2 linked regions of the Homo sapiens genome follow. The protein of the gene in region 1 interacts with the protein of each later gene in a pairwise test. Each region holds a gene or a part of one and is shown on either strand. Other genes may lie near its edges.

Evidence for each region. Proteins that work in one complex are often made in the same cells at the same time.
Region 2: the proteins of RAP1GAP2 (region 1) and WNK1 interact in a two-hybrid assay, tested with the Homo sapiens proteins (one large-scale study listed by IntAct).

The regions. Positions count from the first base shown.
Region 1 is NC_000017.11:3,030,438-3,033,937, reverse strand, and holds part of RAP1GAP2 (rap1 GTPase-activating protein 2), read right to left. Parts: intron 3,017-3,500; coding exon 2,940-3,016; intron 1,528-2,939; coding exon 1,519-1,527; 3' UTR 1,489-1,518; intron 547-1,488; 3' UTR 1-546. UniProt on the Homo sapiens protein: GTPase activator for the nuclear Ras-related regulatory protein RAP-1A (KREV-1), converting it to the putatively inactive GDP-bound state.
Region 2 is NC_000012.12:881,579-885,078, reverse strand, and holds part of WNK1 (serine/threonine-protein kinase WNK1), read right to left. Parts: intron 3,388-3,500; coding exon 3,290-3,387; intron 3,169-3,289; coding exon 3,006-3,168; intron 2,137-3,005; coding exon 2,020-2,136; intron 1,685-2,019; coding exon 1,511-1,684; intron 1,306-1,510; coding exon 1,248-1,305; intron 959-1,247; coding exon 836-958; intron 431-835; coding exon 1-430. UniProt on the Homo sapiens protein: Serine/threonine-protein kinase component of the WNK1-SPAK/OSR1 kinase cascade, which acts as a key regulator of blood pressure and regulatory volume increase by promoting ion influx.

The DNA.
Region 1 (3,500 bases):
AGAGCTCCAGAGCTACGGGGGCAATAGCGCCGAATTTTATCAGGATGGCCTCAAGGATGCTACGAATCTTGGCTCCTGGGAACATGGGGCCTCCACCACCGAGTGCGTTCCTGGTAGTAAAGCCTGCCACGTTCAGGAAGGCACTGCCCTGTGGCCAAGACCCTCACCGAGGCTCTGCTCCCACCCCCTACTCTGTCTCTGAGGCAGACCAGCTCCCCAGTCACTGCTGAGCTCCCCCCAGATCCCCCTTTGCCCGACACTTTTCCTCTCCAGGATGAATAGGATGATAAAGGACCCGGACATCACACTGGGAGGTCAGGAGCAGGAGGAACCTGAGGAAGGAGGCCTCGTCCAGAGATGGGAGGGGCTGGGAGGGCATGTAGGTGAGGGCGGAGGCAGGGCTGTGGCCAGACTGGGACACCTGGACCAACAGCACATCTGTGGGCACGTGGCCATGGGGCAGCAGGGCTGGGACTGTCAGGGTCGTGGACGGCACTCCCAAACTGCTGGTACAGGAGCCTTTTCCAGGACAGAAGAGGGGATTCCCTGAGGAGACAAGGAGGAGGCGGCGATGAGCGAACATTCCGTACAGGAAGGAGGGGACGACGCGGACGTCGGGAGCAAGGGGTGGGGAACACGCCTGCCCATGGCTACAGCTCACTGGATACACTCAGGAGCAGGAGGGCACCTGATGTAAGGGTGCCCCACCTTGCGTGGCCCGAGAAGCTGCGCATAGCCACGGCTTTGGTGGGCAGTGGCGTCCAGAGTGCGTGATGGGAGCCGGGGGTGAAGGTCCATATGCCCATTTGTCTTCTGCTTTTTCATAAATCAGGTTGAACACAGAGTGGGTTCGGTTGTACCCCTCCTCTTGGCTCCAGCTGTGACTCTGACCCCTGAAGCCCCATGTGGGGAGAGGGCTGGGAGCTCAGATGGGTCTCTGGTGACTTCCCCAGCAGAAATCCAGGCCTTGATGGGGGCGAGCTGGACCCACGGCCACTCTGCTCAAACCACGTGCCCCCTCAAAGCAGGCAGGGGAAGAGGCCTCCTGGGGTGGTCCCTCACAGTGCTGACTCCCGACAGGGAGGGAGAACACACCTCAGCCCAGGGCCTCCGCCAAAGACACAAGGAGGGAACAGCTGCCTGAGGGCAGGGGAGCAAGGGAGCCCTCAGGAACTCCTCCCTCCTGGGTCAGAAGCGGGCTTGGGCGACTCCCCTTCTGCCTGCGGGAACCAGACCCCATCGGTGGAAGGGAGGCCTAACTAGTACGTCTAGTCCAGTGTCACTGGGAACCCCCTTCCCATCCGCACACAGGCCATCTGCCCCTCCTTCCCCATTGCAGGTCTTCAGGGGCGAGTAGGAGACTCTTTGGACATCCCCAGCTGGCGGCATCTCTCCGGCCATTCTGAGGTTACAAGGCCTCTAGTTCCCTGATCTAAAAGAAACACACGTCCCCCCTCACGGCCACAGCAGGACATTCACTCAACCCACCTTGGACAGGCGAAGGACTCCACTTTCACATTAGTGACCCTGTTTCAACAAAAATCCATACAGGAGTTTAAATAACCAGACAGCACAGGTCCCTTCCACGGCGGCTCTGTGCACTCAGCTCTCAACAGTCTGGTGAGCTCAGGAAGGGATTCAGGACCCCAGGAACAAGCACTTCCCACCTCACATCTGGACCTGGAGTTCTCGATAGTCTGGCGAGCTCAGAAAGGGACTGGGGGACCCGGGAACCAGCCCTTCCCACCTCACATCTGGACCTGGAGCTCTCGATAGTCTGGAGAGCTCAGGAAGGGATTCGGGACCCAGGAACCAGCCCTTCCCACCTCACATCTGGACCTGGAGCTCTCGATAGTCTGAAGAGCTCAGGAAGGGATTCGGGACCCAAGAACCAGCCCTTCCCACCTCACAACTGGGCCTGGAGCTCTCGATAGTCTGGAGAGCTCAGGAAGGGACTGGGGGACCCAGGAACCAGCACCTTCCACCTCACATCTGGACCTGGAGCTCTCGATAGTCTGGTGAGCTCAGGAAGGGATTCGGGACCCAGGAACCAGCCCTTCCCACATCACATCTGGACCTGGAGCTCTCGATAGTCTGGAGAGCTCAGGAAGGGACTGGGGGACCCAGGAACCAGCCCTTCCCACCTCACATCTGGACCTGGAGCTCTCGATAGTCTGGTGAGCTCAGGAAGGGATTCGGGACCCAGGAACCAGCCCTTCCCACCTCACATCTGGACCTGGAGTTCTCGATAGTCTGGCGAGCTCAGAAAGGGACTGGGGGACCCAGGAACCAGCCTTTCTCACCTCACATCTGGACCTGGAGCTCTTGATAGTCTGGTGAGCTCAGGAAGGGATTCGGGACCCAGGAACCAGCCCTTCCCACCTCACATCTGGACCTGGAGTTCTCCATAGTCTGGCGAGCTCAGAAAGGGACTGGGGGACCCAGGAACCAGCACCTTCCACCTCACATCTGGACCTGGAGCTCTCGATAGTCTGGAGAGCTCAGGAAGGGACTGGGGGACCCAGGAACCAGCACCTTCCACCTCACATCTGGACCTGGAGCTCTCGATAGTCTGGTGAGCTCAGGAAGGGACTGGGGGACCCAGGAACCAGCCCTTCCCACCTCACAACTGGGCCTGGAGCTCTCGATAGTCTGGAGAGCTCAGGAAGGGACTGGGGGACCCAGGAACCAGCACCTCCCACCTCACATCTGGGCCTGGCCGTGTCCAGAGGTGTAGCTCCACCTTGGGAGTTGTGGCAAAGGTGGCTGGAACCCGGAGACACGGCCTGCACCTGCTGGAGCCAGACGTCCCCAGAGCTTCCCCTGCCTCCTTCGGGGAGCCCCCTCTGGGATGTCTGAACCCTCTTCCTCTGGCCTCAGGAAGGAAGGCTGGGCCTCTGCAGAAAGTGGAGTGTGGGGTGTGGGAGGCGCATCCTTACCGCACCAGAGCTGGCATGGCTGAGCTTGTCAAAGCGGAATTTCAGGTTCGATCTCGGGGAGTTTCTGCTTTTGGCATCTAAGAAAAAGAACGGCCATGAAAGGAGGGTGGAGCTGTGGAGGCCACTGGGGCTGTGTGTGGGGACTGGCTAGGGAGGCCAGGGGAAGGGGGCCTCCTGCCCTCCACCAGGACCAGGCACCCTAGCTGACCTGTGCCGACCCACGAGAGCCAACTCCTAGATTATAGAATTGTGGTGAGCTGGTTGTTCAACTCAGGCCATTTTTTAAAGTTGAATTATATATAAGCTTACAGTTCAATAAATTATATTCAACAGAGGTAATAAATACTTGAAATTCGTCACTTCCTACTTATTTTTCTCTGTTTTACGATTATCTGTGCTCTTACGTCTATTGTATCCATGTGGTAGAAACACCCTAAAGATGGTGGCTACAGTATATCTTCTTCCCAAGTCCACGTTCGAGGACATCACGTCAGTAGCTTGAGATCAGCCACGACAAGTGTATTTACACCACAGAAACTGGTACATGCTACAAATCATGAC
Region 2 (3,500 bases), on another chromosome or scaffold:
GATATTGAGACAACTGCAGGTATTGTGATACTTGAAACTACGCTGGAAAGTACTGGTGATTCAGACACAGGTGGTATGGGGAGACCACCTGAAGTTACCACACCTGTGCTGGTGGCAACTCCAGCAATCCCCTCTTCAGTGGGCACTGTAACCTCAGACTGAATTACTGATGTGGAAATGTCATTAGGAGGGCTGCTTGTTGCAGGGACTGGTGCTGTGGCTGCTGCTGTGGTTGGGACTCCAGCAATGCTACTTAAGAAAGGAGGTACTACTGGAAATGTTGGTCCTGTATGACTAAAGTTTGGAGGTGCTGTGTTGGGTCCTTCTGTCATTTGGGCACGTCTAAGTTCAGAAAAGGCCTGTTGTAGACTAAGGGATGATGCAGAGTGAGACAAGTTCATTCCAGGGCTCTGAGCTGTAGAGGCAGCAACTGCAAAGGAATACAAAAAGATAAGAATCAGCTGATTTTAAAAGGATGGATTCAAAAGATTGTCTGCTAGCCTAAGTCAGCTCCTATAAATATCTGTTTTTGATAAAAAATATGGAGTAATCTTAAAACATAGACAACAGTACTAAGTGCAGAAATAAACACATACTACAATATCTATTATACAGACTATATCTTGGTATGGCCGTGCTTCTTGGCTTTTTCTGTAATTCTCTGTATTCTTCATCTATTTCCCTCTCCCATATGTTTATCTGTTGGTTATAACTTCAGTTTTCTATTCTTTTTTATTATCTGTGTCATCATAAATTACTGCTTTATGATTAAGCTTTCAACATAGCAGAGGCACTGTAGAATTTACATAACAATGTGGCAGAATCAATCCCTTACCTGTATCTGTTATTTCACTGGGGAAAACTTTTGATTCTCGTAATCGGCTTTCTGGCACAGGACTCACTATAAACCGCCTTCCCGCAGAATGAACAACTTGAGTTAAAGAACTGGTAGGAATGCCTGGTCAAAAACAAACAAACAAACGTAACTTAATAGCATTATTATTATAAATATTGTTAGACTTCATTATTGGCACATACAACTGCTTTTTTTGAGGCACGGTCTCATTCTCTCACCCAGGCTGGAGTGCAGTGGCGCGATCTCAGCTCACTGCAACCTCCGCCTCCTGGGTTCAAGCGATTCTCGTGCCTCGGCCTCCTGAGTAGCTGGGACTACAGAAGCCTGCCACCACCCTCGGCTAATGGCTTCTTAAGTCAAAGGTAAAAACAAGGAAAGAAAATAAATTCACCTATTTGCTGTGGCATGGAAGACGCAGGAATTGGTTGTTTGAACTCTCCTTCCAATTTCTACAACAAACAAAAGTGATTAAATACATTCTCAAATGCAATCTCAATGACTAGGCAAAGCAAACTGCCACATGTGAAGAGAACATAAAAGTTTGTTGTCGGTCATGGGTGTCAGGTGATATCACTGGACATTTTGCATAGCAAATTTAGAACTATGAAAATATTTTAAATCAACAAAGTTTCACTATGGGAGTGGTGAACCTACCTGAGAACCTGAAAAGCCATAGTCATCCTTTCCTTGTAGACTCTCCAATCCCTGATCACCCTCTGGTTCCACACTGACATCCTCACTGAGCATTTCATCAGCTTTTTCAATAATTTCTCGCACTTGATCCACAAACGACTCTCTCTCTATTGCTAGAATAAAGTCATTGTTCACCTGTAAAAGAAATGTGATGTCAGTCTAATTAGTGTCATTTCTCAAACTTTATGTCACTTTTATGACTTCTGTCCTATCTGCATACTTACCTATATTTTTATTTATTTTGTACTCAAGTTAGCTCTTCTCTTTTTAAGAACTTCAATATCTAGTTAGACATAGCCTAGACAAAAACATCACTAAATCACAGGTTGGGTGTGATAGTTTTATTCACATTGAAGTAAATGCATAACTTTAAAAAAACATGGATTATAAAATATGGCATATTTGCCTAGAGCAATGGCTATTAAGATCAAGTACTAAGGAAAAACCTAGAACTCCAAATGCAGACGTACCATAATTGTTGCTATCTCCTCGGGGTTGTCACCATCTAGGTCAAATTTGAATGTAACCATTTTCCTATTATGAGTCTCTAATTGACATTCTACTACTCGGTCTCCTTTATTTGAAACCTAAAAAGAAAAAAGGTACATCATCTCCAAAGACCATATTCAGCTTTATTACTGAATTTCAGAAAAGCAATGCAGATTAGCACTTGACTTTATGTCTAAGGAAGCATAGTGTTATCGCTGTTCCTTGGAGCACTAGTACTTTGTCTCTTAAACTGGTAGCAAGAAAAATCTTTGAGAAGACGTTAGCCTTTGAGCTACTTACTAAAACTCTCTATTCTTTTTCTAAAAGATAAGTAGTGCTTTATCATAGAAATATGGAATGTAAGAATATCATTTGGCTAATTATAAGATCCTATACATTCATCAATTCATCTAAGCCTTAAGAAATATTTAAATGATATTAACTGCTGGCCCTATCATAGCTTTATGAACTACCTTTTCATTTTTCTAAAAATGTGATATTTAAGTCAAAGAGACTGTGGGCATGAAATGAGAAGAGTACTATATAAATTATCTGGCTGGGTGCCTGTAATCCCAGTGGTTTGGGAGGCTGAGGCAGGTGAGTCACCTGAGGTCAGGAGTTTGAAACCAGCCTGACCAATATGGTGAAACCCTGTCTCTACTAAAAATACAAAAACTAGCCGTGCGTGGTGGCACGTGTCTGTAGTCCCAGCTACTTGGGAGGCTGAGGCAGGAGAATCGCTTGAACCCAGGAGGCACTGCAATCACAGTGAGAAGAGATCATGCCACTGCACTCCAGCCTGGGCGACAGAGCGAGACTCCGTCTAAAAAAAAAAAAAATTATCTGTCACACACAGATAGTTATCTTTATTTTATGAAGTGAGTGGTTTGGATTTGATGACCTCTAAAATCTTTTTCAGTGTCAAATTCCTTTAACAACATGAAACTCACAAATTAGGAATACTTACATTCAAAATTCTTAATTTTGGGCGTGAAGTTTTTTCATGTCGAGAGCGACTCCTTACAGATTTTCGGTAATGCCGTTTTGTAGTTCTTCCTTCATGCCTTCCACTGGAAGATGGGACGTTCTCATTGCCATCACTCATACCTGAAGCAACATCTGAATGTGCACTTTGAAATTTAAAAAGAAAAAAAAGTGCAGTTTATAATATGAGATTTAAAGGTCTGACAGTTTGGCGTTTCATACCGTCTTATTTACCAGTCAAGGAAGGAGAATTCTAGTTTTACGTACCTGTCTACAGAGGAAGCCAAAGTGGTCGGCTGGGTAGCTTGGGTCTGTGCTACTGCAACTGGCTCTGCAGGAGCAACCTGAGAGACTCCCTGAGTACTCTGTGAATCGAAAAGATAACTCAAATCTCGGTAGTAATAGATTTATCATTCACTATCCCCAATAATCTACTTATTTTTTTCCTTATCCCTCCCCACTACGTCCTAGAAGCACT